4 separate regions of the Homo sapiens genome follow, and all the other regions are linked to region 1. The links come from fine-mapping of genetic effects on gene expression. A gene starts in region 1. Each other region holds a variant in brackets. All regions are shown on one strand. Distances are between the middles of the regions. Region 1 holds the start of PGM1 (phosphoglucomutase 1). Region 2 overlaps ALG6 (ALG6 alpha-1,3-glucosyltransferase). Region 3 overlaps ALG6 (ALG6 alpha-1,3-glucosyltransferase). Region 4 overlaps PGM1 (phosphoglucomutase 1).

Region 1 (8,198 bases):
TGGAATGCAAATGAAGGATAAATATGATTGTACTTGAGAATAGTAAAATTCATAGAGACAGAATAGTGGTTTTCAGGGGTAGGAGGGAGGAGGGAATGGGGAGTTACTGTTTCATGGGTACAGAGTTTCAGTTTGCGAAGATGAAAATGTTCTGGAGATGGATGGTACAATGGTTGCACAACAATGTGAATGTACTTAGTGCCACTGAATGTACACTTAAAAATCATTAAAATGGTAAATTTCATTACGTATGTCTTGCCACAATGAAAACAAAATGCTTTTGTTTGTTCACTGCTGTTATGATAAAGATCTCAACACCTGACATCCCCTACAAGGCCCAATATGATCAGACCTACCATTCCACCCCGAGGTTTTTATACTCCAGTTACACTAACTGTCTTTTTTCAAGTTATTGATGACACTAGATTCCTTCTTACTTTAAACTTCCCTTAACGTTCTTTCTGGAATGAAATGCTCCTCCTCTCTTTTCACCTGGCCAGGTACTATTACTCATTGTTTTATCCCTCAGCTTACATAGCACTTTCTCCAGGATATTGTCCATGACTCTCTCCAATGATAGATCCTTCTATTTACAATCTAACAGCACCTATACTTCTTTGTTGCACTTATCACAATTATGATTTATTATTCAGTATCTGTCTCCTGCAACATATTGCAAGATCTGTGAGACCAGAGACTATTTTGCTTTTTTTTTTTTTTTGAGACGGAGTCTCGCTCTGTTGCCCAGGCTGGAGTGCAGTGGTGCGATCCTGGCTCACTGCAAGATCCGCCTCCCGGGTTCACGCCATCCTCCTGCCTCAGCCTCCTGAGTAGCTGGGACTACAGGCACCTGCCACGACACCTGGCTAATTTTTTGTATTTTTAGTAGAGATGGGTTTTTACCCTGTTAGCCAGGATGATCTCGATCTCCTGACCTCATGATCCGCCCACCTTGGCCTCCCAAAGTGCTAGGATTATAGGCGTGAGCCACCGCGCCCGGCCGAGACTATTTTGTCTTATTCATCAAACACCTTTCAAAGAGCTGTCATTTAGTACAAGTTCAAAACATATTTATAGAGTTAATGAATCAATACACGAACGAATACATCTAAATGGTAAAGAATAATTCATTAATGAAATAATGAGGGCCGGGTGTGGCGGCTCATGTCTGTAATTGCAGCACTTTGGGAGGCCGAGGAAGGCAGATCACTTGAGGTCAGGAGTTCCAGACCAGCATGGCCAACATGGCGAAACGCCATCTCTACTAAAAATACAAAAATTAGCTGGGCATAGTGGCATGTGCCTGTAATTCCAACTACTTGGGAGGCTGAGACACGAGCATTGCTTGAACCCCAGAGGTGGAGGTGGAAGTGAGCCAAGATCGTGCCACTGCACTCCAGCCTGGGTGATGGAGTGAGACTGTCTCCAAAAAAAAAAAAAAAAAAAAAAAAGTAAGGATTACCACTTAAAAGGTATTTCAAAGAAAAGGAAAATACATAATATGTACTTATCATTTTAAAAATAATACAAATTCCCTATAGAAAACCTGGAAAATCCAGATAAAATATAAAGAAAATAAACATTGCCCTATCTTGCAACTCAGTGGTAATCATTGTTGCATATCTTGGTATATTTCCAATGGCTTCTTTCCCGATTTCAGTGCTACCCACAGGGGAATAAGACTCCTTCTCTTGCTTTTCATAAATACTACAACTTGGAAATCTCTGCAAGTCAATTTTTGAACGTGGGTAGAACCTGTGAATACGATGATACATTACTCCTATGAACACGTTACAAAGGGAGATTATCCAGGTAGGTCTAATCTAAGAAATGGGGACCTCAATCCTACAACTGCAAGGAAATAGATCCTGCCAGCAATCTGAATGCGCTGTGTTAAAATCAGATCAAACTTTAAAAATTTTTAAAAGTTTAGCATGCATACAAAGAACAGTTTACAAACTGGAAGACATCTAACCAAAAGTGGCAAGAAGCCCAGCTCACAGCAGTTACAGTACAGCTTATAAACATTGAGGAAGAAGTATTTTGACCTTCGTTACATTCTTTTTAAGGCGAGTAGAGCTGTTAAGCTGATTTGTCTATAGCTGATTGGTTTAATTTCATTGACTCACACTGTCAAGGACATTTTGTGTTTTGTTTATGTCTAGAGCAAGTGTTTCAGGGAAATAAGGATGACTTAAGTTTTGGCTACCTGGCTATGGGTGGTTGGACTTAAAATATCTAAACTGGAGCCTCTATTTTTATTTATCTTTAACACTTGAAAGAAATTCTTCCCAGAGCCTCCAGATAAGAAGCCAGCTTGGCTCTTGACTTCAAATCAAGGTGTTCTTCCCAGAGGCTCCAGATAAGAACGCACCAAGCTTGGGTGGGTTCTTATCTTGAGGCTCTGGGAAGAATTCAATGAAATTAAACCAACTGGCTATAGACAAATCAGTTTAAACAGGTATGCTTGCCTTAAAAAGAATTTAATGAAGGTCAAAATACTTTCTCCTTGATGTTTATAAGCTGTTATATATCCGTGATTACCAGGATTGAACCTGGCCAAACCTTTTGATCTATAGAATTGGGACTTCTTATCTATAGAATTGTGACATCATAAATGGGTGTTGTTTTCAGCTGTTGAGTTTGTGGTAATTTGTCATACAGCAGTAGAAAAGTACGGGTTGAGTATCCCAAATCCAAAAATCCCAAACCCAAAATGCTCCAAAATCCAAAACTTTTTGAGTGCCAACATGACACTCAAAGGAAGTGCTCATTGGAACATTCTGAATTTGGGATTTTTGGATTTGGGATGCACAACCATTGTAATGCAAACATTCCAAAATCCGGAACAATCTAAAATCTGAAACATTTCTGGTACCAAACATTTCGGATAAGGGATACTCAATCTGTAATACAAGGGGATTGCATAAAGGCATGATTATCAGGAGGCAAGGAACATGGGGATCATGTTAGGTCTGTATAAGGGGCCACAGTAACCCTGTCCAGAACAGCAGAACTGCCAGTTAACTCATAGAATCATGAACTATAATCATGAATGGGGGTTGTCTTAAGCCACTCAGATTTAGACTGGTGTGTTATGCAGTTAAAGCTAATTGTTACAACTTCTGGGGTGAGAGAAGTATAGATCAATTCCTCTTAAATGAAAAGCTCCATCATATTTCCAAAGATACTGAAGAATATAGAAAGGGCATGAGATCTGAATTTGGGCCCGTGACTTTACAAGTTATCATTTATTGATGACTTACTTATTAGCACTGTGGTAGGAGCTGTATATTCTCTATCTAAACCATACAACTCTAAGGTAGGTATTTTGAAGGCTCAGTGAATCTATGCTATATTTTCATTTTGTGGAGTTAGATAACCTTGATTACATTCACCATCCAATCCTCAATTCTCTCGTCTATAAAATGGGCTTGATTATATTATTTAATTCACAAGATTACACTGCTCTGTAAACTCCTGTGCAAATATTAGAACTCATTACTAGCAGTCCAGGGTTCCGTTTTCACATAATATTTGCCACCGAAACTCATCTATAGTGACTACATCAACACACTGTATCTACATAGCATGTACTATATGAGCATGTATATCAACACTTGGTTTGTGAGAGTCTGCACTCTTATGGGTCTGTTCGCCTCCCTGCTTGATCAAGACATACCAATTAACTACCAAAAGAATATAATTCACAGGTGAATGATATGCTCTGGTTTTGGAATTGGGGAAGGGGAGCTAATATTTTTGAAGGCCTCTATGTTTCAGGCACCAGGCTAGATGATTTACTTCTAACAGCTGATTATGATTGAATTTGTTTGGACTGGGTCATTTAGAAACCACCTCAAGTAATTCTACTGTGAGCATGGGTCACAGTAGGATTCTACTGTGTATCCATGACTGAGAATTTCTGACATACAAAACCCCATTAAATCTTGCAAAAATATTCCAAAGTAGGTGATATGTTTATTTTACAGTAAGGAAATTGATGCCCACGGACATTAACTAACTTTCCCAAGAGCACACACCTTGTAAAGCCAAGTTTTTTGCCACTTTACCAAAATGACAGGTTTCTTGAACAGAGGAGACAATCACTCTCATCAAATTAAGGGAGATACTAAACCGAAAAGCAAGAAAGACTGAAGATTCCTACTTAATAATCAAATCCCCTTGGTTGACCTTGCTATCCCCCGTGAAACTTTTCCAGCCATGTCAGTCCTTGTTTGTTGATCTCCTCACTTTATTTCTATTACATGAGTAACTGGCTAATTTTGATGGTGTTCATACTTATCCTTACCATATATTTGCTCCTACATTTGTCAAGTCCTGCTTGTACATTTCCTAGTTGCCAACCTGGTGTCACAGCGGGCAAATCATGGGAAGAGCCCTGGTTTTGGAGCCAGACCACCTGAATTGGCCTCCCGCATGGACTTAGCTGTGTGGCAATGAGACAAGGCATTTTATTCTTTGAATTTCAGTTTTGTAAGCATAAAAAGGGGAAAAATAAAACCCAGAGTTTAGTAAGGTTTAGAAACGCTACACTCAGCAAGTCATAGCTAAGTCACCGTCACCAATGGTAGTCAAGTGTGTGGTGCAGCAGGAAACATTTGGAGTCGACTCCTTTACGGAACTCAAATGCCCTCACATTTAGGGAGAAATAGAAAGAATTACGACTCATGAAATCGAGCTGGGGCTGGCACTTCTGACCCTCCCAACAGGTTTCCAGAAAGCTATTTACACACGATGCATTCGCCAAACCACTGGAAATCATTCTACCCTGTACTTTTTTCCACCCTGCCTCACGTCCTTGCCCTATGACCGGGTTCCTACCCCAACCTCTGCCCCAACACTTAGAGGAGGAGTTGCGGGCCTCTTTTTACAGTGGATAGGATTCCGAAGGGGAGAGTAAATCAGTAAGGCTCCACCCATTTCACAGGAGGCCTAGAGACCGGCGCTCCCCTTTCCCCTCCCGCCGGACCTGCCAGGAGGTGGGCTGGCGCGGAGGGAGGGCCCTGTCCCCTGTCCCTTTAAGGAGGAGGGCCAAACGCCGGCCTAGAGTGCGGCGTAGCCCCCACCCGCCGTGCCCTCACCCCAGAGCAGCTGCAGCCTCAGCCGGCCGCCCCTCCGCCAGCCAAGTCCGCCGCTCTGACCCCCGGCAGCAAGTCGCCACCATGGTGAAGATCGTGACAGTTAAGACCCAGGCGTACCAGGACCAGAAGCCGGGCACGAGCGGGCTGCGGAAGCGGGTGAAGGTGTTCCAGAGCAGCGCCAACTACGCGGAGAACTTCATCCAGAGTATCATCTCCACCGTGGAGCCGGCGCAGCGGCAGGAGGCCACGCTGGTGGTGGGCGGGGACGGCCGGTTCTACATGAAGGAGGCCATCCAGCTCATCGCTCGCATCGCTGCCGCCAACGGGGTAAGGGATGCGCGGCCCCGCGCCGCTGTGCACCCTGGCGCGTGTGCGACGTGCGGCCCGCGGCGCCCTCCCTCGCTCGGGGCCGGCCGCTTCCGCGCGCTGCCGCCTCGGTTTCCACCTCCCGCTCCTCCCTCTCCTTCGCGCTCGCTCTTCTGGCCTGGAGGCCCGACGGAGGTCGCCGGGCTGGGGAAAGTGGCCACGGGACCCGGCAGACCTGCTCGCCTGACTCCCGGGGCGCCGGGAGGTGCGGGCGCGGAGCCTCCCAAGGTCACGCCCGACTCTCCGTCTCTAGCCGCTGCCTTCCCTCTCCCCGTCCCCCGCCCCTCCCGAGGCGTCTGACATTTGCCCTAACCTTGCAGCCTTGGAAGATACGATTACGGCGCAGAGTGCTGTCGCCTTAAGCAGGAAAGGTTAGACTGCCGCCGCCTCGCCCAGAGCCCCCTCGCATCCCGCCCGCTCCTCTGCTATTCTCGGCTAGGACTGGCGCTTCCCGCTGGCTCGGAGCCCGACACTGTGGGGCAAGGGTGGCGAGAGCACCCATCCCCCTGGGGCGTCAGGTTGGCAGATCTCAGCAGGCGGGTGCCAATCTTTTCTCCCCGCCCCCTAGTTTGCCTTGGTTCCGAACTCCTGCCCTTTGCGCGGCCTGCTTGCTGGGGGGCAGGCGTTTGAAACATCTAGTCTCTGCCCAGTGGTGCCCGGGATCTGTTCCACCGACGGGGCTGGAGCTGAATTTTCATTAGAATGGCAACATACCCAAAGACGCCCTTACGCAAGCAAGCAGTCGTGGCAGGCCAGGAAATTACCGCAACACCTTGGTTCCGCCCCCGGCCAAGGAAAGTTAACTGACTTGATTGGGCGGGTCCACTCGGATAGGGGAAATTAAAAAAAAAAAGTTTTTCAGTAAATCTGATATATGGAAATGTGGGGCCGGGCATGGTGGCTCACGCCTGTAATCCCAGCACTTTGGGAGGCTGAGGGTGGTGGATCACCTGAGGTCAGGAGATCGAGACCATTCTGGCTAACACGGTGAAACCACGTCTCTACTAAAAAATACAAAAAAAAAAAAAAAAAAAAAAATTAGCCAGGCGTGGTGGCGGGCGCCTGTAGTCTCAGCTACTCGGGAGGCTGAGGCAGGAGAATGGCGTGAACCCGGGAGGCGGAGCTTGCAGTGAGCTGAGATCCCGCCACTGCACTCTAGCCTCGGCGACAGAGCGAGACTCCGTCTCAAAAAAAAAAAAAAAGAAAAAAAAAGTGGATTGATAAGTTGGGGCTAATTATTCACTTACTTTTGTAAAACATTTCTAAGGAGTTCTGAGGACCAAGTTTTCTTTCTATATTTTAAGTGAGATTTGACTTATGCCCAATTCTTCTGGAACGCATCCCCTGAAATGGATATTTTTATTCATTTTAATAGTACTTTATTTATCTTATTTTGTTGACATTGAGTACTATTTGCCAAGCACTATGGTAAGCGCTTCATTTCTGGGTCTCATTTATCCTCCTGCAGCCCTATAAGGTAGATGCTATTATGGGTATCTTCAAGTTGCCAACGAGGACGCTGAAGCTTAGGTAGGTTAAATAATTTACAAAAACTATAATGGCAGCACTAAGAGTCCAATATAGATCTGCCAATCCCAAGAACTTGAACAGCTCCTGAGAATGAAGAATGAACAGCCCTTGATCTTGAAGATCTGTTTTCCAGGCTCCAAAATCTAAACTGGGCTCTATCTACATCTGCCTTCCTGGGCCAAACATTTATAAGCATCAGTGAGAGAAGATTGCCTGGATTTGTTTACTTTGTGGTCCTGAATTTTCAGACAAGCGCAAATTCCCATGAAAGAAGAACAGACAATAGCTGTATCCCAGTAGATCATTTCCCTGTTACCACCTGTGCTGAATTTGCATTTCATTCATTCATTCATTTATTCAGTCAGTCATTCAACAGATCCTGTTGAATACCATGTTCAGAGAAATGTGTGGACTAAAAGGATGATGCAGACCCAAGAGTTGTCCTTAAGGAGCTTACAGCAGAGTGGGAATTTTAGGTGCCCAGATGGAAATTTGTCCATTTGGGAGTAGTGTGGGGTGGGAAGGAAAGAATTAGTTAAGACTAAAAAAAAAAGTTCTTAAAACTTCATCACCCTTTAGCCATTGCCCTATTGCTCTTCTCTCAGCCAACCTTTGTAAAAGCTTTCTGCATTCACTATTTCTCATTCTCACCTCCGGTTTACTCGCCATTTCACTGCTTCTGCCCCCTCCACTACTCCAGTAGAATTGCTCTTGCCAAAGTTACTAGGGACTTGCCAGTTGCTAAATTCATGGAATACACTCTGGTCTAATCTTATTTGGCCTTTCTGCTGCATTTGGCAGTGCTGATTTTGTACTCTTGTAAAGTTCTTCCTCCCTTGGCCTTGCTTACTCTCCTGATTCTACTCACACTTTTTGGAAGTTCCTTCATGGGCTGCACATTGACTATCCCCTAGGTTTCTTTCTTCTTTCTTTCTTTCTTTTTTCTTCTTCTTTTTTTTTTTTTTTTTTTTTTGAGACGGAGTCTTACTCTGTCGCCTAGGCTGGAGTGCAGTGGCGCAATCAGCTCACTGCAACCTCTGCCTCCCAGGTTCAAGCAATTCGCCTGCCTTAGCCTCCTGAGTAGCTGGGATGACAGGCATGCACCACCACACCTGGCTAATTTTTATATTTTTAGTAGAGATGAGGTTTCACCATCTTGGCCAGGCTGGTCTCGAACTTCTGATCTCAGGTGATCCA
Region 2 (8,198 bases), 220 kb before region 1:
TAGCAAATGTGTATGTAGAGAATAAATGTGTATGTGTCTGTGTATATCGTAGCTTTTTTTTGAGAAAAAAAAGCTCTGTCACCCAGGCTGGAGTGCAGTGGCGCAATCTTGGCTCACTGTAATCTCCGCCTCCCAGTTTCAAGCTATTCTCCTGCCTCAGCCTCCTAAGTAGCTGGGATTACAGGTGCATGCCATCATGCCCAGCTAATTTTTGTATTTTTAGTAGAGACGAGGTTTCACCATGTTGGTCAGGCTGGTCTTGAACTCCTGACCTCGTGATCTGCCTGCCTCGGCCTCCTGAAGTGCTGGGATTACAGGCATGAGCCACCGTGCCTGGCCTGTAGCTCTTACATATAGATGTATACACACACACATACATATATGTTTTGTAAGACTTTTTTTTTTGGAGACAGGGTTTCACTTTCATCGTCCAGGCTAAAGTGCAGTGGCACAATGTTGGCTCATGGCAGCCTCCGCCTCCTTGGTGCAGTGATTCTGCTGCCTCAGCCTACCAAGTAGCTGGAAATACAGGCGTGCACCACGACGCCTGGCTAATTTTTGTATTTTTTGTAGACACAGGGTCTCACCATGTTGCCCAGGCTGGTCTTGAACTCCTGAGCTCAAGTGATCTGCCTGCCCCAGCCTCCCAAAGTGCTGGGATTACAGGTGTGAGCCACTATGTCCAGTCAATATTTTAACCAGACTATAGTTTCTCTTTTCTCTTAAAACATTTTTTTTTGGGGGGAGGCTAAGGTGGGTGGATTGCCTGAGCTCAGGAGTTCAAGACCAGCCTGAGCAACATGGCAAAACCCCGTCTCTATTAAAAATACAAAAATTAGCCGGGCGCACACCTGTAATCCCAGCTGCTGGGGAGGCTGAGGCACGAGAATTGCTTAAGCCCAGGAGATGGAGGTTGCAGTGAGCCAAGATCATCCCATTACACTTTAGCCTGGGCGACAGAGCAAGACTCTGCCTCAAAAAAAAACAAAACAACACACTTTTTTGGGCTATTTTTATTTTTCAATTTAATTTAATTTACATTTTTTTTTTTTTTTTTTTTGAGACAGGGTCTCCCCCTGTTGCCCAGGCTGGAGTGCAGTGGCATGATCTTGGCTCACTGCAGCCTTGACCTCTTGGGACCACAGGCATGTGGCTAATTGTCTGGCTAATTGTTTTGATTTTTAGTAAAGATGAGGTCTCACTGTGTTGCCTAGGCTGGTCTTGAACTCCTGGGCTCGAGCAATACTCCTGCCTCAGCCTCCCAAAGTACTGGGATTATAGGTGTGAGCCACTGCGCCCAATTTTTTCAAATACTCTGGCTTAATATAGTTTCTCTTTATTCAGCATGAATTTAAAGGATTTATAGAAAGAACTTGTAAGAACTACTATATTTTGAGTATGAGTATTTTCTTTAGTATTTACCACAACCACTGAAGACAGGTAATATCTTCGATTTACAAATGGAAAATGAGACAACCAATAAATGACAACTGGGATTCAAATATAGTTGTATTTAATTCCACAATCAGTGCTCTTATGACTGTGCTCTGTGGCTTCTGAATGAGTTCGAGGAATATGGAGGAAGTAAAATCACTTAAATGTAGCAGTTGACTTGGGCTCAAATCTTAGCTCTTTCACCTGTTAGTTGCCTGATCTTGGGGAATTTATTTAATCTCCTTGAGCCTCTTCTATCAAGTGGGGTATTAATACATACTTTAAGAGGGTTCTTGGCCGGGCCGTGGCTCACGCCTGTAATCCCAGCACTTTGGGAGGCCGAAGTGGGCCGATCACATGAGGTCAGGAGTTCGAGACCAGCGTGGCCAACACAGTGAAACCCCGTCTCTACTAAAAATACAAAAATTAGCCGGGTGTGGTGGCGGGTGCCTGTAGTCCCAGCTATTCCGGAGGATGAGGCACGAGAATTGCTTGAACCTGGAAGGCAGAGGTTGCAGTGAGCCGAGATCACGCCACTGCACCCCACCCTGGGTGACAGAGCAAGACTCTGTCTCCAAAAAAAAAAAAGGATTCTTGTGAGGATTGAGATAATATGTATAAATTATGTTTTCTTTTTTAATAGTGCAGGGCTATAACTAGCACATTTATAGTTCATAACTCATCTCATTTGATCCTCACATCAGATCATTTAGCCCTAAAATGTCTGCTATGCAGGAAAAATAGGTCTTGCTGGTGATTAAGTCTTTAGGCCTGGTCTTTAGGGTGACCAAGAATAATAAATGGTATCTTCCTTAGAGAAGTTTACAGTCTAGTGGATAAGGTGGACATGTAAATACATACTACATAAAAATGTAGGCTGAGCACAGTGGCTCATGCTTGTAATTCTAGCGCTTTGGGAGGCTGAGGCAGGGGGATCACTTGAGGTCAGGAGTTCCAGACCAGCCTAGCCAACATGGTGAAACCCCCTTTACAAAAAGAAAAATTAGGCATGATGGCACATGCCTGTAGTCCTAGCTACTCGGGCCTCTGAGGTGGGTGGATTGCTTGAACCCGGGAGGCGGAGGTTGCAGTGAGCCAGAGATGGTGCCACTGCACTTCAGCCTGGGTGACAGAGGGAGACTCCATTAAAAAAAAAATGTAGTGTGATATAGGCAAATACTTTGTTTCTTTTCTTTTTCTTTTTTCTCCCTAGACTGAGTCTTGCTCTGTTGCCCAGGCTGGAGGGCAATGGTGCAATCTCGGCTCACTACAATATCCGTTTCCTGGGTTCAAGCAATTCTCCTGCCTCAGCTTCCCGAGTAGCTGGGATTTACAGGCATGTGCCACCACCCCCGGCATTTTTTTTTTTTTTTTTTTTTTTTTTTCCAGTAGAGACAGGATTTCCCCATGTTTGCCAGCCTGGTCTCAAACTCCTGACCTTAGGTGATCCGCCCTCCTTGGCCTCCCAAAGTGCTGGGATTACAGGCGTGAGCCACCACGCCTGGCCCATTTCTTTTACTTCCTTAAAATGCCTTTGTCAGGTTTGATATCAAGGTTAAGCTAGCCTCATAAAATGAATTAGGGAGTATTCTCTCTTTTTGTAAAATCTGGAATAGTATGTAAGCTTGGAATTGTTTGTTCCTTAGATACTTGGTAGAACTTGATAGTAAAGGTATTTGGGCCTGGAATTTTCTTTGTAAGGAAAATGTTTAGTGATTTAATTTGTTTATTGGTTATAGGACCATTTAGGCTCTCTCTTTTTTCTCGAATTATTTTTGTAATTTATATTTTTCTAGAAATGTTTCCATTTCACCTAAGTTTTAAAATGTATTGACATAAAATTATTCATAATGTTTTCTTACCTTTTACATTTTCTGCTGTATCAATGATTATAGTTCCTTTTTTATTTCTTATATAGTTAGTGGTGTTTCATTTTTTAAAACAATCAGTCTTATTAGGGGTTTATTAATTTTATTAGTACAGTCATGCATTGTTTAATGATGGGGATTCATTCTGAGAAATGCGTCAATTGGCAGTTTAGTCATTGTTCAACCATTGTAGAGTGACTTACACCAACTCAGATTGTACAGCCTACTACACCTAGGCTGTACATTATAGCCTATTGCTCCTAGGCTACAAACCTATACAACATGTTACTGTACTGAATACTGTAGGCAGTTGTAGCACATGGTAAGTATTTGTGTATTTAAACATATCTAAACATAGATAAGGTGCAGTTAAAATACAGTATGATTATCTTATGGGACCATCATTGTTTATACAGTTCGTTGTTGACTGAGATGTCATTATTGTGGTACATAGCCGTATTTTTCAAATAACTAATCTGAGCTTTGCCCATTCTCTCAGTGATATCCTTGGGGTTGTTCTTTTTTAAATTTACTAAATTGGATGCTTTAGCTCTTAAGTTTCAGTCTCTGTAACACTATCATTTAAGCTATACATTTTCTTTAGAGTACCATCCCACAAGTAATATTTTCTAATTTCTAATGTGACATCTACTTTGACCCATGAGTTATTTAGAATTATGTTTAAAATTTTTTAAATATTTAGGCTTTAAAAATTACCTTTTTGATATTTTAAATTTAAGTAGATGGTAGAAAGAGAATCTTTCTGTGTACTACTAATTCTTTGAAAAGCATTGAAACTTGACCTAGTATGTAATCAGCTTTTGTAAATGTTCTGTGTGTGCTTGAAAAGAATGTGTAATCTCTAGTTTAATATTCTGCATATATTCAATAACCCAATATTATTGTTTTGATACAATCGTTTTTTATATTCTTACTGATATTTTACCAATTGATCTACCAGTTATTAAGAGAGCTGTAGTTTCTCTTTGTAGTTTTGTCAACTTGTATGTATATATTTTGTATCTATATTACTAGGTGATTTAGAATTGTTTTTCTTTTTTTTTTGAGATGGAATCTCACTCTGTTGCCCAGGCTGGACGGCACAATCTCAGCTTACTGCAACCTCTGCCTCCCGGGTTCAAGGGATTCTCCTGCCTCAGCCTCCCTAGTGGCTGGGATTACAGGCGTGCGCTGCCACACCCAGCTAATTTTTGCATTTTTAGTAGAGACGGGGTTTCACCATGTTGGCCAGGCTGGTCTTGAACTCCTGATCTCAGGTGATCCACCACCTCGGCCTCCCAAAGTGGTGGTATTAACAGGTAGAATTTTTTTGTGTGTGACCTGAATTTCATATCACTGTTGCTTCCCTGTTTGTTTACA[G/A]TAATGCTTTTTTGTTAAAGTTTGTTTCCTCTAAAATTAATATAGCCATAATAGTTTTCTTTAGTTTGATTTTTGCTTGTTATATCTTTTTCTGTCCTTTTATTCTTTACTGTATGTTTAGATATGTCTAAGCAATTTCCTTCCGCAATTGCTGTTTCCCTTCTCTATTGGTTTGAAAGCTATATTTTTATTTTCTTCTTTCAGGACTTATCTGGAAATTTTCAGTTGCATATTTAACTTAACAAAGCCTAAAGTTAATATTTATATCCTCTTGAACAATGCAAAGACTTTAGAATGTTTTAATTCTGGTTACAGATCCTCACTTCCCAAGTTAAAATGTTACTGTCTAGGATTTTGTTTCTTCCATGATTTTTAATCCTATAAATTAGGCATTAATGACTTGTTTTGTACAGTTAATATTGGTTTATTATTTATTATTTATTTATTTTTAGAGATGGGATCTCACTCTATTGCCCAAGCTCAAGTACAGTGGCATGACCATAGTTCATTGCAGCCTTGACTTCCTGGGCTCAGAGGATCCTCCTGCTCCAGCCTCCCCAGTAGCTGGAACTACAGGTGCTTGCCACCACACCCAGCTAAATATATGTTTTTTTATTTTTAGTAGACATAAGGTCCTGCTGTGTTGCCCAAGCTGGGCTCAAACTCCTGGGCTCAAGGGGGATCCTCCCACCTTGGCCTCCCGAAGTGCTGGGATGACAGGTTGTGAGCCACTGTGCCCTGCATATTTATTTAGTTTTACCCTTGTGTTTAGCATTTTCTGTTCACCCTTCTTACATATTGTATCTTTCTTTGAGATCATTTTTTTCTTCCTGAAGTACACCTTTGGGAGTTTTTTTTGGTGAGAGTCTGTTGGTGGCAAACCCAGTTTTTGTCTGAAAATGCCTTTATTTGGCTTTCAGTCTTAAAGTTTTGCTGGGTATGGAATTGTTTTGATGGTTGTTTTCTCTTAGTATTTTGAAAATACCATTGTCTTTTAATTTGTGTTGATGTTTGGACATCAGCTGTCATTTTAACTGTTATTCTTTTGTAGGTAATTTGCCTTTCCTTTCTTGCTGCAGTTTCACTATGATATATCTTAGTGAATATTAAAACATTTGTCATCCTAGGATTTTCTGTGATTTCTGTCTCTAAGGAATGGTATTTTCTGTCTGTTCTAGAAACTTTTCAGCTACTGTGTCTTCTTATTTTTCTTCCTTTTAGAACTCTGATTAGATATATGTTGGATCTTTGGTTAGGAATTCCACAGATAGTATAGGCCATTCACTATGTGCCAAGGGCTGGTGATGCTGCAGAGAATAAAATAGACAATAATCTCTTCCCCTCATTGACTTTATAGTTCTCAGTTATCTCTTCAAATATTGTATCTTCCTCATTTTTATTCTTGTACAACTCTTGTTAGATGTATGTTGGGTCTTTTCATTCTGTCTTCTGTGTTTCATAATCTCTTGTATTTTCCATCTCGGGGTTTCTTCACAGTGCTTCCTTTATAATCATCAAATTTGGTTTCCTGTTCATTAGTTTTTAGCTGTGCTTAATTTGTTTGTTTTTTTTTTTTAACTCCCCATTGAATGTTAAGGTTTCAGTTATTATATTTTTTATTTCCAGAAGTTCTCTTTGGTTCCTTTTTAGATCTTGATCATTTCTGATAGTCTCTTGTTCCTTCAGCATACTTTCAAGGTCTTCTTTTGTATTGTTAAGCAGTTGAACCATGCTTATTTTATGTTTCTTATCTAAAAATTCTCGTATCTGCATTCTGATTTCATAGTTTTTTGTTTCTCCTGACCCTTGCTCATGGTATTTTGTTTCTTCATGAGCTTAGTGATTTTTAATAAAATAGTGAGTTTATGTAATTTGGAACTTTTATCTGTGGGAATTCTTTGAGGCTTGAGTTTCCTGTGCATTTTTCCACATAGGGTTTATGTTGCTTCCTGGTAGGCACCTGGGGCACTATTAACAAAAATCAAACTAAATTAGCAACTTAAAGTTTCTTTGGGTCATGTACTTGGTGTGAATTCAGGCCCCAACCTGGGCAAATGCAGGCATATGGTTAGGAGTTTTCATAGGACTCTTTTTCGTTTTTCCTGTACTACCAGGAGCCAAGGCCGAGATGAGTACTATCTTCACTATCTCCCTAAAGGCATTGTATTTTAAATTGTAGTAGAGGGTTCTCTGACCTTGAATTCCTACCTGTTCAGGTCCCAGGCTTTGCCTCCTTACTGACTGCACAGGGCTCCTGGTAGCCAGGCTATTGACCACCAGAGATCATTGGATACCCTCAAGGCAAATGCTTACTTCTCTGAATCTACACTTTGCTGTTGTTTCTGGGGCCTCTAAGGAATTCTTTCATGTTACTGCTAGTTCAGCCATATATTAAAATTATATATTTATAAAAGTAGGATACGTAATACTATATTATTAATTATATAAAAACAAATATAAATCATACATTATATATAAAACATATATAAAACATTATATTATATACATTATTTATTCAATGTTAACTAGGATTTTTACTGGAGATGTTTTTGGACCCTTTGTCTGGCATATTGCTGGAAACCGAAGTGCCATCTATATTTTTAAAAGCTCCATAAGTTATTCTAGTGTTTACAGAGGGTTAATAGACATGATGGTTGAAGCCAGGGGTTGAGGGGCAAAAGCAACAGGTTTAAGAGTTGCTTTTGCCCCTCAACAAAAGCAACTTTTGTGCAAGAAGAAAACAGATTTAACCACTAATCATCTCCAGAGAGAAGGGAGAATGATTAAAGGAGACTGAGAAGAAACTGTGTAGTAGGCTTAGCATCTGGAGAGTTTGTTTTTCTAGAAGCCAAGAAACCAGACAACTTTACAAAATGAGGACCGGCCAACAGTGTCAAGCTATAGACATGTCAAAAAGGATGAAAATTTAAAATAGACAAGGGATCTATAGGAGACCATGTGAACCTCCTGGTTGCCAGACTGTAATGAACTGAGGACTGAATGGTAGTTATCAAATGGACATAGCAACTTTCAGGACGTTTGTTCGTGAACGGAAGAAAGGAAGTAGTTTGGTGGCTGAAGTGGGGGAAGAAGGGCTGAGGAAAGGTCCAATTAGAAGTTGTTACATAAAATATGTAACTTATAATATTACTTTTAGTCCATAATTGGTCCATTGGAAAGTCATCCCCTTTTCTGAATTTGGTACTAATTCATGGTGATTATTTAGTTTGCAATCTTTTTTCCAGTTTTCCTTTTGTCTCCTAATTGTGACACATATATTATTTTCTCGTTTATTTTAAGGTGAAGTTGAAAAGAACTAAAATCAGAGTATAGGATAAAATACTACAAATTTTTAAATGATACTATTTCAGTATTGCTGGTATATATAATCAAATGCTTAATGGGAATTCAGGAGGGGACAATTCATCCAATACTTCTCTATTCCTGTGACTTACATATATTACTTAACCTGACATTTCTTTCATGAACTGAATTTACTCAATTACTTTTCTCATC
Region 3 (8,198 bases), 160 kb before region 1:
ACTATATACAAATATATTTTTGTATATTCAACTTGTATTCTTCGGCATAGGTTTTTAATGGATTTCCTACAGTTTTCAATATACAAGATAATGTAATCTGCAAACCATGAGTTTTACTTCTTCCTTTCTAATGTGGATGACTTTTATCTTTTATTTCTCTTACTTGCCTAATTGCCCTAGGACCTATAAGACAGTGTTGAATACAGGTAACAAGAGTGGACATCTTCTCTTTTACTTGATATTAGAGGGAAAGCATCTGGTCTGTCACCATTAACTATGATGTTAACTGTGGGCTTTTTAAAATAGATGTCTTTTATCTGGTTGAGGAAGTTCTCTTCAATTCCTAGTTTACATGTTTTTCTCATGAAAAAATGCTGGATTCTGTCTAATTCTTTTTCTGCATCTTTGGTCATGTGTGTTTTTTTTCTTTTATTCTATTATATGACATATTTCATTGATTGATTTTTGTATGTTACACTAACCTTGAATTCCTAGGATAAATCCTACTGGATCATGGTGTATAATTCTTTTTATCTGCCACTGGCTTCAGTTTGACAGTATTCTGTTGATGATTTTTGCATTTATATTCATAAGAGACACTAACATGTAGTTTTCATGTGACGTCTTTGTCTACTCATAAAGTTCATATATTTAAGGCATATCACATTACATTCAAGGCTAAAATGCTAGATTGCAATGTATTTGAGGTCAAGAACTCTGCATTTTATACATGCCATTTTATCTGTAGCATCTATCAGTGCCTCACAAAGAATAGGTGCTCTGATTTTTGTTTGTTGAATGAATGAATATTCATCTAATTATTATAATGAAAAATTAGAGGCAGCTCAATTATCCAGTAGTTGAAAAATGATACATGAATAAGTATATAAGCTCCACGGAATATTTGACAACTACTACAAATGTTATGAAGTTGTTGTTGTTGAGACAGGATCTCACTCTGTTGCCTAGGCGGGAGTGCGGTGGTGCATTTTTAACTCACTGCAACCTGGAACTCCTGGGCCCAAGTGATCCTCCTTCCTCAGCCTCCTGAGTAGCTAGGATTATAGGCATGCACCATCATGCTTGCCTAATTTTTATTTTTTATTTTATTCTTTTTGAGATGGAGTTTCACTCTTGTTGCCCAGGCTGGAGTGCAATGGCACGAACTTGGCTCACTGCAACCTCAACCTCCTGGGTTTATGCAATTCTTCTGCCTCAGCCTCCTGAGTAGCTGGGACTACAGGCACGTGCCACCACACCCTGCCAATTTTTGTATTTTTAATAGAGACGGGGTTTCACCATATTGGCCAGGCTGGTCTCGAACTCCTGACCTCGTGATCCACCCGCCTCAGCCTCCCAAAGTGCTGGGATTACAGGCGTGAGCTACCGCGCCCAGCCCAACAGGCTATACTTATTTATATTTTTGAGTACTACATAGAGGATTGCCCAAAGTACCCAGATAACAAAGAGAAAAGAATGACTAACTCTATTAGGGGAGTGTAGGGGAAGGTTTCAAAGGAGATATTTTATATTTAGATCTTGTAGGAAGACAAGGCAGGTATTCTCAGGGCAGAGTTGAATGGGTGTCCTGAGGGTTTTGCACTTTAGGTAATGACCATGGAGGATAGTGGTGTGGGAGGTAGGAAGTTAAGAGGTGAACAGGAAAGACAAGGAGAGGATTAACTTTACTCAGGGGTTCAAATGGAAAGTAGATATAAAGTTCATTTTTTGTTAGTATAGGCCCAGATTCCTGAGTGTATGTCAAAATCTAGCCCTATTGTGATATTCACAATCTGGTCCAGTAATCTTAAGGTGAGGACCGCTATGGGCTCCCAGATTTATTTGTTCTTTAATAGTTTTTGAGCACTTACTATATGCAAGCATTGTTCTGGAGGCTGAGGATACGGTAGTGACCAAAACTAACAGAAATCCCTGCTCCCATGGAGGTTGCATTCTAGTGGAGAAATCCAGCACCAGCATATGTAAAATATATGGCATGTCAGAGGGTGATAAGTGCTATGGAGAACAACAAAGCAAGGGAGAAATCGATATGATATGCAGGAGGGATGAATGCAATTTTAAAGTGGCAGGGCTTTCTTGAGCAAAGAACCAAAGGAAGTAAACTGCAGATAATTGAGGGTAGAACATCCTAGAAGAGAAAAACTGCAAATGCAGTGAACATCATGGAGGTCATAGTGATTGGAGCTGGGTGAGGGAAAGAAATAATAGGACCTAAGATTAGAGAGGTAACAGTGTAGTTTCTTATAATGGGACTAGAATCTGACTTACATTTTTAAAAGGTCCCTATGGTAGCTATGTGGAGAACAGATTGTGGATAATGGAATCCATGAGATGATGGTGCTGTGGACCAGGGTAGCAGTGGAAGTGGTTAGAAATGGTCAGATTTTTTATATATTTTGAAGGTAGAGCCAACAGGAATTGCTGGGGTTGTGAAAGAGAGGTGTTCAAGATGACTCCAAGGTTTTTGGCATACATAACTGAATGGGTGGGGTTGCCATTTACCGAATTGGAGGAAGCATGTTGAAGGAACTTTGTGTGTGGTGGGGGCAGTCGGGAGTATGAGGAGACCAAGAGTTTTTTACATGTTTAGTTTTAGATACCTATTAGATATCCAAGTAGAGATATTAAGAAGTACCTGGATATATGAGTCCAGAGTTTAGCGCAAGCTTGTCCAATCTGCAACTGAAGCTGGCTTTGAATGCAGTGCAATACAAATTCATAAACTTCTTAAAACCTGGAGTTTTTTTGCGATATTTTTAAAAACTCATCAGCTATCGTTAGTGTTGGTGTATTTTATGTGTGGCCCAAGATAATTCTTCTTTTTCCAGTGTGGCCCAGGGAAGCCAAAAGATTGGACAACCCTGGTTTAGGGGAAAGGGCCAGGCTGGAGACGAAGTTGAGTCTTTACATATAGTTGGTAATTAAAGTCATATTACTGGATGACTCACTAAGGGTATGAGTATAGATTAATAAGAGGAATAGGTACGAAGCCCCAGAATGCAGACGTAGGGGACATGAGGAACCAGCAAAGATGTCTAAGAATTAACTGGGTGAGATAGGAGAACCAGAAGAGTATGATGTCATGGAAGCCAAGTGAACGAAGTGTTTCAGTGAGAGGAGAGTGATTTCAAATGCTAATGAGAGAATCAAGTAAGGCAGTAAGAACTGACCATGGGATTTACTACACTGGAGGTCATTATGGATGTTTGACTATAGCAGTTTCATCGTGATTAGGGTGAAAGCCCAATTGGTATGGGTTCACTAGTGAATGGGATGAAGACTGGACACAGCATGTTTATAGGCAACTGTTTTGGGAAACAAGTGTAAATAGGAGCAGACAAATGGGGTAATAGTTGGAGCAAGAGAGGGTTTTTGTTCTGTTTAACACTGACTCAAGATCGTGGTATTATGACATTTCAACCAGTCCCATATTTCTTAAGTTTGAAACTTTTATTTTAAAGATTTCATTCCAGATGTTTGCACTTCCCACTAAGGTTGCCTCAGGAATTTTTCCTTTAACGACACTGGCAGCCTTTGTTTGTATCTGCTTGTAAGCTTTCTTGGCGCCTATCCTCGCTTTTCCATTTGGAATGATCACTGCATTACTCTCTATTTAGATCTTACCAATACTGTCATAATGTAGCCAGCAGTTAAGGCATCCTTTAGGGTTCTGTGTCCCACCCACTTCATGGAAGTCACTACTGTTTCTCACTGCTTTCTACATTTATTTATACTGCTTTTGTATACCTGTGTACTGTGCTAGGGATAAAATGAGTAAGATCTTGCTGGTCTTTGTCTTAAAGGAGCTCACAGTCTAGAGTCACAGTCTGTCCAGTACGGTAGCCACTAGACATATATATAAATTTAAACTTATTAAATTTAAATAAAAATTCTGTTCCTCAGTCACAGTAAGTACATTTCAAATGCCCAATAGCCACATGTGGTTAGCAGCTACTATACTGGAGTGCAGACAAAACATTTTCATTACTGCAGGAAGTTCTATTGTATAGCACATTGGCCTAGAGAAGACCACACTAACTGATGACCACACAACTACAATAAATGTGCTAATTATTTTTACTACTCAGCTTGGTATTTAAGCCAGTGTGACTTTGTGATTTTATTTAACATTCCCCTCAGTAGATGGAAAACTCTTTGAGGCCAGAGGACCTCATTTTCTTTCATGTGCCTTCGTGTGCTTTACTCATTGAAAGCATTTAGCGAATATGAAATGTAATTTTCCATTTGCCATGGAAAACTTTTTCACAGATGGGTTCTCAAGGTTAGCTTAGAATTTTAAAAATTGATACAGAATAGATGTATATATTTTGGGGGTATATGTGATAATTTGATTCATTTATTCATTCATGTAATGCATGAAGATCAAATCGGGGTAACTGGGCTATTTATTACCTTAAAAATATGTCTTTATGCTAGGAACATTCAACTTATTATTTTCTAGCTATTTTAAAATGTACATTAATGTTAACTATATTCAGCCTACTGACCTGCCAAACACTAGGTTTTATTTCTTCTAGCTACCTATACATTTGTACCCATTAGCTTAGAATTTTATATCCTGTTGGACCCCAGGGGATGTTATAAATTTAACCCTGACTAGCATTAATATTTGTCCCAGATACCTTTGTTCAGTGCCTTGGTGGTAGGAAGTATAAGAAGACAGGGGTCCTCAGGTTTTGGCTACACATGGGAATCACTTGGAGAGCTTTAAAAAGTACTGAGGCCTGATTTAATTGGTCTGGGGTGTGATGTGGGCATTGAGATTTTAAAAACTCCTCATATGATTCTAATAGGAAGTCAAAGTTGAGATACACCAGAATAAATTAGACCCTCAACCCTCACCTTTAATTCTGCTCATTTAATAGCTACAAGTCAATGTTTCCAGCACATTTAAATTTCACCTTTTATACTACTCAGTAATCCTTTTTTTCCTTGCAGTTTCTTATCTCAGTCATCACTATGGTGCTT[C/G]TGACGTTGATGACTGTCACACTGGATCCTCCTCAGAAACTACCGGACTTGTTTTCTGTATTGGTGTGTTTTGTATCTTGCTTGAACTTCCTGTTCTTCTTGGTATACTTTAACATTATTATTATGTGGGATTCCAAAAGTGGAAGAAATCAGAAGAAAATCAGCTAGCTGTATTCCTAAACAAATTGTTTCCTAAACAAATGTGAAAATGTGAACAGTGCTGAAAGGTTTTGTGAACTTTTTGCTATGTATAAATGAAATTACCATTTTGAGAACCATGGAACCACAGGAAAGGAAATGGTGAAAAGTCATTGTTGTCTACACAAAATAAATGTATATGGAGACCAAAGACCAATGGAGGCTTGTCTAAGTACTGCTTGGCCAAAACATGTGGTTTTATTATTCACAGCTATTCAAGTGGGGAAAAAAGAGAAACATGTCCTTAATCCCATTGTTTACTCAGGAAATGCACTTTTTAAATGTCTTTAAAAAACTGAGAAATATTTCTTGATATTTGCTTTGTCTAAACCTACTTCCTTCATCAGACCATATAGTGAGCTTCATGGGAGAATTGAGCCCCTTCTTTTTAATGGAAATCACTAATTTTGGTATTCAAACTTACATTTTAGAATGCAAGTAGTGTGTATTTCACTGTTTAGAAGTCATATCTTAGGGAATTAAATTTGTGATAATCTTTTTAATTACTGAGAAGGCAATTTAAACTGCTTGAAGTTTGAATATGCCTTATTACACATGCAAATTTGATTGTTTTAACAAGGCAAATAAACCATAATCTTATTTATTTCCAAGAATGCATATTTTAATACAATTAAAAATGAATTTTCCTGAATTTAAATGTAAGCTTTAACTTAACTTTAAGTGGTTTGAGTGAAGTCTTCTAAATTACACATAATCACTGGTTCTAAACTTCCAGAACCATTCTGTTTAATTAAACATTATATTATATATATATTATTATTGACATGGTTCAGGGTTACCACTGCCAGAGCATTGATTCATGTTAACTTCATCCTATTAATACTGTATCACCCTGTATTAGCAGAAGCCAATATTTATTATAGTATTCAACTGGTAAAAATAATACATGATATCCATGTTGCAGTTTCTCATATAAAGATATGTTTTCTTTAGCCTCTGTAATAAAGATAATCATTTTCCCATCAACATTTTTTAAGGAATATATTTCTTCTTTCATAAGATAGCCATTAAACTATATTAAGTGGTGGTATATTTTAATATAGTGCAAATCAAACCACATACAAAAAAAAACTGGTTCTAGACACGGACAGTCACAGGCTGATATAAGAAGGTATGTGTTTCTAAGTCTGGTAAAGGAAGTGGGTTTAGACAAAGCAAAAATCTAGAAAGGTTTCTTTCTCAAAGCAAATGTGCATAAAGACTCAAAGGGCAGGTCAACGCAGAATAGCAGCCTTGAATCACTGCCGAATCAGCAAGAACATTGCTGTCCATGGTCACCATCTGTAATCACTGTGCCCAAATGTCAGCATCTTGGCTGGCTGGTGTAGCTTTATTTTTAAAAATATTTTTTGTAATAGTACACTTGTGTTTAACATAGAATGTTGACTTAGATAAATGATGAGGAAGTTATAAATAATTGGAGTAGCATAACTTTATTATTTGGAAATAAAAGTATTATGTACATATATTAGTAAAATGAAATGCACCTGATTCAAGGTATCATCTAGGTAAATTCTGTAAGGTACCATATAGGTAAATTCTTAAATCATTTTTCAGATGATTTAATCTAATCATACTGAGTTGCACTATAGTTTTTATAGAGACTTGTAGCAGTTATCTTATAAGTATCCCTCGTATCTATTAAAAACCGGTTTAAGAGTTTATATTGAACTTAGAGGGATTAGGTTCCAAAATACCAAAACAAAATACCAGAAACAGAGGCCAGGCACAGCGGTCTGTATTTGAGAGGCTGACACAGGATGATCGCTTGAGACCAGTGAGACACCATCTCAAAAAAAAGCAAAATATCAAAAATATCCAGTGATGAATTATCACAGAAGTAGGCAAGGTCCAAAGCATTTCTCTTAGCTAAACTCAGGGCTATAGGGATGTTTTCATATAAATACATATAGGTTATGCAAAAATATTAAAGATAGATTCCTCACTTTCTTCATTAATATACCTGTCAAAAAATAAGCCCTTCAAAGTTATGTTCAAGTACGTTTTAGATGGAGGAGGTATTTCTGAGAAATGCAGTTTTCTCAGCTGCCAAAAAACTTAGGTTTGCTTCTTAAAATGAAGAGAATAGGGTGTATGTTCATGTATCATATATGAGGCATACAGAAGTCATTTTCCCTTGAGGACTTAGTGGGGGCGAAAAATCCCCAATGTAGCATTCTGTCCAAATGATAAACCACAACAAATTGAGTGAAACATTTACAAAAGTCAGGGCAGCCAAAGGAACCTCTCTGTTCAACAGAGAGAAAGAGATGGATAGGATATAACTAAATAATGGTTAAAGTAACGCAATGGTTTCAAGTCTCAATTGGTCTCTCTTCTGTTATGTTCATTGGAAGATCAGGGCAAGTATATCCCCTGCAACTCCCCCTCCCCTCATATAAACATTAGTTGTGTGTGTGGATCTTTCTGCTTTGTCCTTCATGTGGCCTCCAAGGGTGATAAAGTGAGAGTCATCTGATCTACAATGAAAAGAACTGGGAAATGATTCTCAGCAGACCCAGCTGTTCTAAAAGGCAAAAGCTTAGTATATCAAGAGGTCAAACATACAGTAACTGGTTTAATAGCATTAAGCACATACCTATATAACTTGAATTATATATGAAACCAATCTACTTCTTAACTCTGTATTACCTGACTAACATAGATTACTTTATAAAATGTTTTGGCTTATAACCTAAGGTTAGTTTTCAATGCTATAATAATCCTTTTTTAGTATATTTTTGGTAACATCCTATTATAAGCACTGTATCAGAATAAATTTCTTAAACAGTATGAAGAACATAATTAATGAAGGTAATTTATATAATTTATAGTAACAGTTTTTAAAAACCTTTCATTTTAAAAAGGTGAATCTAAAATTTCTCTAAGTGGAAAGTGAATTATTTTCTTTTTTTCTGAGATAGGTGTCTTGCTGTGTTGCCCAGTCTGGTCTTAAACTCCTGGGCTCA
Region 4 (8,198 bases), 70 kb after region 1:
AAGAAAAAGTAGCATTCAGCAGTAGAAAATGTACTACTCCTGGCTCTGCTATTGAGTCATTTAGTCAAATCACTTCATCTCTTTGGGTATCAGTTTTCTCATCTGTAAAATGGGCAGTTCAACCAGATTAGTAGTTTTTTTTTTTTTTTAATATTGAAAGCATTTATTAAGCAACAGAATTCTCTCTTTTTTTTTTTTTTCTTTAAGCGAGAAGTAGATGTGGGGAGGGGTTGTTGCATTTTTAAAGATTCCTGTATTAGGCCGGGTGCGGTGGCTCACGCCTGTAATCCCAACACTTTGGGAGGCCAAGGCAGGCAGATCACCTGAGGTCGGGAGTTCAAGACCAGCCTGACCAACATGGAGAAACCCCATCTCTACTAAAAATACAAAATTAGCCGGGCGTGGTGGCGCATGCCTGTAATCCCAGTCACTAGAGAGGCTGAGGCAGGAGAATTGCTTGAACCTGGGAGCCAGAGATTGTGGTGAGCCAAGATCGCAGCATTGCACTCCAGCCTGGGCAACAAGAGTGAAACTCCATCTCAAAAAAAAAAAAAAAAGATTCCTGTATTAGTCTGTTTTCACACTGCTGATAAAGACATACCTGAGACTGGGCAATTTACAAAAGAAAGAGGTTTAATTGGACTTACACTTCACGTGGCTGGGGAAGCCTCACAATCATGGTGGAAGGCAAGAAAGAGCAAGTCATGTCTTACATGAATGGCAGCAGGCAAAAGAGAGAAATTGTGCAGGGAAACTCCTGTTTTTAAAACCATTAGATCTCATGAGACCCATTCACTATCATGAGAACAGCACAGAAAAGACCCACCCCCATGATTCAATCATCTCCCACCGGGTCCCTCCCACAACACTTGGGAATTATGGGAGCTACAAGATGAGATTTGAGTGGGGACACAGAGCCAAACCACATCAGTCCCATTGGGAACAGTGTGGGAAAGAAATTGGAAGATGCACAAGTGGATGTGGAGGCACTCACTGCTCCAGGTAAGAGACAGGACATTGACTTAGCAAGACTTAACAGCAGGAGAGTGGAGAGAAAAGGGGGCCATGGAGAGAGATTTAGCGGGGAAAAGTCATTGAGGCCTGCTCATGGACTGGGCATGGGGAAAATGCAGAGGAAGATGTCAGGAGCAACTCCTAGTTGTTCACTTTACATGAAAGACTGTAGTGTTGATCCACTGAAATAGAAACTGCTGGAACTAGGTATTGGGGGAAATAACATGTGTTTGTTTTTGGATTTGTGGAGTTTGAGGAGCCTTGGAGACCTGGAAGTAGGCAGTCAGACGTACGGGTTTGGAGCTAAGCATCTGTGTTTAGAGGAAGTGATGGAAAAGCTTCTCTCTATGTCTTCCTCAGGTCATGTTGGCCCCCCTTATTTCCATTGCTCTGAAAGTGTCCCAGCTGCAGGAGAGGACGGGACGCACTGCACCCACTGTCATCACCTAAGAAGACAGGCCTGATGTGGTACGTCCCTCCACCCCCGGACCCATCCAAGTCATCTGATTGAAGAGCATGACAGAAACAAAATGTATTCACCAAGCATTTTAGGATTTGACTTTTTCACTAACCAGTTGACGAGCAGTGCATTTACAAGGCACTGCCAAACAAGATGCCCTTGGGAGCTGTGAGGGAAAGAGGACCTGCGGGCTTAGATCAATCTCAATTCCTTTTCATGCCCTCCTGCATTGCTGCTGCGTGGGTATTTGTCTCCTTAGCCATCAGGTACAGTTTACACTACAATGTAAGCTATAGGTGGAGCATCAGCAGTGAGTGAGGCCATTCTTCATCCTTAGGATGTGGCAATGAAATGATGGTGCAAGTTCCTTTCTCTTTTGTGAATCTTTCCCCCCATTTCCTGTTTACATGTAACCCAACAAAATGCAATTTCTAGTGCCTTCTGTCCAATCAGTTCTTTCCTCTGAGTGAGACGTACTTGGCTACAGATTTCTGCCTTGTTTTGCGACATTGTCCCATTCACACAGATATTTTGGGATAATAAAGGAAAATAAGCTACAATTGCTTGTCGTCTTTTTTTCTTAACTGCAAAGTACTTTTTTGATTTTAGAAAGAAAAACAATTTTTTTTTTAGAAGGAGGGGAGTATTGTATTTTGTTTTCATGTCCTAGTCAGAAAATGAAATGGTCTCTAGGCTAGGTTGCAAATCCTTAGACTCAAGAACTGTAATTTTTTTTATTGTCCTGAATATTCTAAAAAGTAACATAAATTTTAAGAGAATTGTAATTTAAAATCTTAGCAGGGTCAACTGAGCTCTGGATTCTTCCAAGGTAGACAAATCAAGCTTGACATGGTTAACTTGGAACAAGGGAAAGGAAGAGTGATTTTCCTCTTCCTAGTGCTTAAATAGCAAAGCACTGGTACGTGCTCTGCAGTGCGGAGATGCCTTGACGCTTATTGAAGGGATGGAGGCAGAACCCTCAGAATCTGAGAGCAGGGTTACTGACATTTGGCCAAAAATCTGAGCCCACTGGCATCTTATTCAGCTCAGAACACTTATATTCCATCCATGAGTATATTATAGTTAAATAAGCGTAGACTTGAGAGCCAACAGACCCAAGTTTGAATCCCACTTGAGACCCTGAGTGACTTTTGAATATCATTACCCTATCCTTAAAGTGGGGATGAAAGTAGTTCTACCTTTATGAATTGTTGAGTACCTTAAGTGAGTACATTTGTGTAAAGCAGTGAGCACAGTATCTAGTGCATGGTACATTGTTAAATAAGTGAAAACTAGAATTATGTTTATGATACCATTTTTAGATTTTAAAGTACTGTATATACAGGAAAAACAAAAACTGTAACACTAATATTTGTAACACATTTTACATTTCCAAGGTACTTTCACAAAGTCACCTTGCCATATGGGCTATTCTAAAAAGTCAGCCCAGCTCTGTACCCCTCCCCTACTCAGTATGGACTCCCTGATACAGGTGGCAGGATCTTTATCTGGGGTAAGATTTCCATTGTTGCCAGCTCAGCAAACAAAACTATGCTTTGACAATGATGACAATGATGGTGGTGGTGGTGATGAGTTTGTCTGGAACGTTAACCCCTTGCCAGGCACTTTCCATATATTCTTTCTGAGCGCTTTCCATATATTCTTTAAATCTTCCTGACAACTCTGAGGTAGGTACTCTGAATATTCCCATTTTACAGATGAGGTTCAGTTACTCAACCAAGATCACACTGCTGGGGAGTGGTAGATGCTCCCAGACAGTGCAGCTCCAGCCCTACAGGGTTCAAACCACTTCAGATTTCTTCTACGGACTGTCTACTTCTAGGCTACACCTAACGTGGAAGAAAGGTGTGCAAATGCCCCTGTGCTTTACGCATTAAAGGGGGATACTGTGTGCTCTGGATGCCAAAGAATCTGTTATTTTGGCATTATATTAGCTCCTGCAGAGATCTGGATATCTGGATGTATCAGTCAGCCCGGAAATATGTATTGATCCACATTAAGTGTGAGGTGCTTGGGAGGAAGAGCTGTATAACACAGAGCCCATGCCATCAAGCTGCCTGTAAGACTTGCCAGGGGAATCGAATCTAGCACAAGTAGAAACTGTATGGGATAAATGTTATGAGTTGTGTAGGTAAAACCTACATATTCTCCAAGCACCTATTCTATCTCAGATGTTGGGCTAGATGCTTTCCAGTAACCCTCGAAGCAAGACATCATTCTTCTCGCTTTCCAGTTGAGGCAACTGAAGCTCAACAGAAGCTCATTAATTTGCCCCAGGTTCTCAGCTACCGTGTGATGGAACTGGAATTCTGACCCTAAGTATCGTTCATGTTTCCTGACCCTTTTCTGCCTCCTCATCTCTTGAATCAGCTGCGGATACTCCCAGTTCTGTGGCCCCTGGAATGGCTTCAAAAATTTCCTCCTCCCTGATCGTATTTCAACTGCTTTTCCTGCCTCCACTTGGCAACAGCTTGGAAGTTAAAAGCTCAGGGGAGGAAGAAGGAGGTGGCTGGAGCCATGGGGCAGTGGAGGTGGGTGTGGGTAGTAAGGATCACTGTGTCTCTCCAGGGCTTCCAAAGAGATGCCGCAGTGTGTGTGCCCCAGGGAGTGCGGGAGAGGAGTCCTGAGAGGCGGGCAGCAGCACCCAGCCAGGCTTCCCCGCCTTCCAGCGTTGATGTGGTCTGTGAGTCAGGCTTGTTTTCTTTGGGGTGTGGTGAGAATTACAGTGAGAAAATTGGGTTGGAACTGTTTGGGGCCCAATTCTGAAATTTCACTTTTTCTCTCCCTCTTGACATTCAGCTATTCTCTCAGAGAAGCAGTTTCCTGTTCAGCGATGTGCCCCAGGCCTACACAGTGGCCAGGCTTCCAGTGGCTGGGCTCTGCCTCATAGGGAGTGAAAGCAGAGGCCAAGCTCACTGTGGTTCTGGGGAG[T/A]GTCATCTCCTTGGCCCTTCAAGGCCAGGCTTGAGGACAGGGTCCCTCTGCCTCCTCTGCCATGCTGCTTTCTTCAACGTTTCTTGTTGACTCATTAGAAGCTGGCCTTGCTTATAAGAATTCTCCAGAAAACATATTACCATGAGTAAGAGGTGCCCCCCTTGTGTTTCTGCGTTCTGAACCCCCCCAGCAGAGGGGGTTGGATATGAGTATAACAGCCTTCATGCAGGACTCACTGCATGGCCTGTGGGCTTTGGCGGGGGCACCCCATGGCCTTCTGGCCTTCCCACTTGCCCCTTCTGATCCATTCTCCACACCACCAGCTAAGTACTCTTTCAAATGTTGAAGTGCAGAGGCCTTTGTGTAGCCTCCAGGTCCGTGTGACTCACCTGCCTGTCACTTCCCGCTCCTCTCCCCCTACTCACAGCCTTACATTCCAAGCTTCAGTCTTGGGGAACCATGGCACCTCCCTCCTGCCCCCAGGCCTTGGAAGCTGCTCTTCTTTCCACCTGAATCACCTTTACCCTCCATCCCACCCTCCACTACATTCTCCACCTTTCCCCTCCATTCCACCATCCGCCATATTCTCCCAACTCCTACTTGTTCCTCAGGTCTCAATTTAAACATCGTTTCCTCCAAGAAGTGCTTTCTGAGCCTCCAGTGTCTGGTTTGGGAGCTTTTTCTGGTGTTCCTATCACCTCTATTTCCCCCTTCGAGGCGCTTATCCCATTCTATGTTCATAACCTGTTTACTTTCCATTTCTTCTACTGCCCTGGGAACTCCTACATGGCAGAGACTGCCTTTTTCACCAGTGTTTACCCAGGATCTAGGCCTGTGTCTGGCACATAGCAAAAGCCCCATTAAATATTTTCAGAATGAGTGAATGAAATCTACTAGTTGCACGGCAGAATGTTTCATTATGCTGGAATCTCCCTGACCTATAAGGCAGGATTGTCTCAATTTTACAGGTGACAAGTGATTTGAGCAACTTCCATGCTAGTCACTGGTTAACCAAGAACTCTTTCAAAAAGTGTTAGAGGCTGCAAGTGAGAAAGCACCCAGGAGAGGCGGGCAGGAGGGTACTGGCAATAGATGGGAGTTATGTGTCATGGTCACTTTGAAGAAAATGTTTAATTTAAATGATAAAACACATTTTATCTCCCACTGCTACAAAATTAATTGGGAGGTATAGTTGGGGAAGAGTTCTACTGAATACAGAAATGAGTGCTTTAAGGAACAGAATCAATAAAACCAGCCTCAATCCCCAAAGCCCCCCTCTGAGCAGATTCACGGAAAGGAACCCATGATGGGTAAAGTGGGTACCCTGGCACTGGGCGTCATGCTGGCATGGGGATCCTCCTCTGAGCATCTATTTCTGGAAGTCTGAGAGGCTCTTCTCAGTTCCCATTATCAGAACAAGAAGCATTCCCACAAGTGTGTCATTATCCAAAACAAGTGAGGTCACTGGCGGGAGCATGTCTCATGTCTGTCTGATCGTCCTATGGAAACCGTGGAGGGCTTTGGTTTGGTTTTCACCAAATATGAAAGCTCCACCTCCATCCAGTAAGTTGTCATTGTGGGTGTGGGTTAATAACTATTTTCCAGAAAGCATGTCTTATTGAGTGCAGCTCTCCAATTAACAGAAAGGCTAGTTACGAGTAGCAATCTCTTTGCTTCTCATGACGGTGTCATTTCATAAAAGCTTCATCTTCATTGGTTTCTGACTTCATTTTTACATGATGGTAGGAGTGCTATTATTATCCCAGATAAAGCAATGGAAGTTGTGAGAGTTTATGTGATTTGTGCAGAGTCCCACTAATGATGAAGGAGAAAGCAGACCAGCCACCTCCAATCACCCTTGGATGTTTGGATTTTTTTTTTTTTCTGTTCAACCTTTGCTGTATAACAAAGTACCCCAAAATCTAATGGTATTAAACTTTTGCATGATTTTATGATGCTCACAGACTCTGCGGGTCAAGAAGCCAGTCAGGGCACAGTGGAGATACAAGCTTGTCTCTGCTCCACAATGTCTGAGGCCTTATCTGGTATCTTTGTCTGTTTGGGCTGCTATAACAAAATACTGTAAGCTGGTGGTTTTGTAAACAATAGAAATTTCTTACAGTGCTGAAGGCTGGGAAGTCCAAGATCAAGGCACCAGCAGATTCAGTGTCTGGTAGGGGCCCACTTTCTAGCTCATACATGGTGCCTTCTTGCTGTGTCCTCCCATGGTGGACGGGGCAACAGGTCTCTCTCAGGCCTCTTTTATAAAGACACTAATCTCCTTCATGAGGGCCCCACCCTCATGACCTAATCACCTTCCAGAGGCCCATCACCCACTGCCATCACCTTGGGGATTTAGATTTCAACATGAATCTTGGGAGGACACAAACATTCAGACCGTAGGCTTTGGTCCTGGGTCCCCAAATTTCATGTTCTTCTTACATGCATAATATACTCATTCCAACCCATTAGCCTCAAAAGTCTTAATTTATTCTGTCATCAACTCAAAAGTCTGAAGTCCAGAGTCTTTTCTAAATATCAGCTAAATCAGATATGGGTGAGGCTTAAGGTGCAACTCATCCTGGGGCAAATTTACTCTCCAGCTGTAAACCTATGAAATCAAACATGTTATGTGTTTTCAAAATACAGTGGTAGGATAGGCATAGTATAGACATTCCCATTGTAAAAGGGAGATACAGGAAAGAAGAGGGGTAACAGGTCTCAGGACCCAGGTCTGAAACCTAACCTGGCCAACAATGTTAAATCTTAAGACTGAGAATAATCTTTGGTTTGCCATCCAACCTGCTGGACATGCTGGGGCAGGGATTGGGACCTCAGGCTCCAGATGGCCCTACTTCCGTGGCTTTGCTGGGTACAGCCCATGCTACAGCTCTCGTGGGTTTTAGTCAAGTGCCTACAGTTCTCCCAGGCTGGAATCACATATAGGCGGTTCTACTGGTCTGACAGCAGCTCTACTAGACATTGACCTAGTAGGGACTCTGCAGTGGCCCAGCCCTCTTGGCAGCCCTCTGCCTGGGTCACACACCTGAGGCTCTGGGTAGTTCCATCCTTTGAAATCTTGATGGAGGGAATAATGCCTCCTTGGCTTGTATACTCTATGTGCTGGTGAAGGTGGCATCTTGTGGACACTCCCAAAGTTTACTCTCTGTGCCCTCTGGAGGAGGAGCAGCTACAGAGTACCACTATGCACTTGAATTCACTAGAGCTGAACTTGGGGCAGCCAAAGAGCTTGGCAAAGAGCAGAGCCTTGAAATTGTTCTGTTCCCCCAGTCCCTTGCAGTCTGGACCTGTGAAGTGAGGGGGCAGCCTTGATGATCTCCAAAATGCCTTCGGGGTTATTCCATTGTCTTGCACAATAGGTCCTGGCTTCTGTTTAGACGGGAGTCTAATCTCCCCATTGTCTGGATGAATAGCTTCTAGCTTTGATTGAGATGGCCCCTCTGAACTAACTTCCTTATCAAACTTGGCCACACCCTTCATGTTCTCTCTCAAACAAGCTTTCTGATTTTTTCTAATATGGATAGGCTGAGAATTTTCGAAATTTTTAGGCTCTGGTTCCCTTTTGGTTAACAGTTTCATTAACTTTAAATCGTTTCTGTCTTCGCACATTTCACTATAAGCACTCAAGAGAAGCCAAACAGCACATTTTATACATTGCTTGGAATTTCTTCAGTCAAATATCCAATTTCATTGCTCACAAGCATGACCTTCTACAAAACACTAGAATATGAACATAATTCAGCCAACTTCC

What was found. PIP is the estimated chance that this variant, and not a neighbour inherited with it, causes the effect.
Region 2: its variant is the best candidate, but not a certain one, in a credible set for the expression of PGM1 in whole blood (INTERVAL, PIP 0.51).
Region 3: its variant is the best candidate, but not a certain one, in a credible set for the expression of PGM1 in whole blood (INTERVAL, PIP 0.75).
Region 4: its variant is the best candidate, but not a certain one, in a credible set for the expression of PGM1 in whole blood (TOPMed, PIP 0.87).

The regions. Positions count from the first base shown.
Region 1 is chr1:63,588,303-63,596,500 of GRCh38, forward strand. PGM1 (phosphoglucomutase 1) reads left to right here and starts at 5,109. Exons shown (of 11, transcript NM_002633.3): 1 at 5,109-5,432. The coding sequence starts at 5,187. RefSeq lists enhancers at 5,096-5,385, 6,086-6,145 and a silencer at 5,426-5,725.
Region 2 is chr1:63,372,619-63,380,816 of GRCh38, forward strand. All of the region lies in intron 2 of ALG6 (ALG6 alpha-1,3-glucosyltransferase), which reads left to right. Among named protein-coding and RNA genes, the nearest start is that of ALG6, 9.1 kb to the left of the region's middle. The variant G/A (reference allele first, on the strand shown) is at 4,683.
Region 3 is chr1:63,431,843-63,440,040 of GRCh38, forward strand. ALG6 (ALG6 alpha-1,3-glucosyltransferase) reads left to right here. Exons shown (of 15, transcript NM_013339.4): 15 at 4,981-6,711. The coding sequence ends at 5,178. Among named protein-coding and RNA genes, the nearest start is that of ALG6, 68 kb to the left of the region's middle. The variant C/G (reference allele first, on the strand shown) is at 5,011.
Region 4 is chr1:63,658,212-63,666,409 of GRCh38, forward strand. PGM1 (phosphoglucomutase 1) reads left to right here. Exons shown (of 11, transcript NM_002633.3): 11 at 1,375-2,034. The coding sequence ends at 1,464. Among named protein-coding and RNA genes, the nearest start is that of PGM1, 69 kb to the left of the region's middle. The variant T/A (reference allele first, on the strand shown) is at 4,427.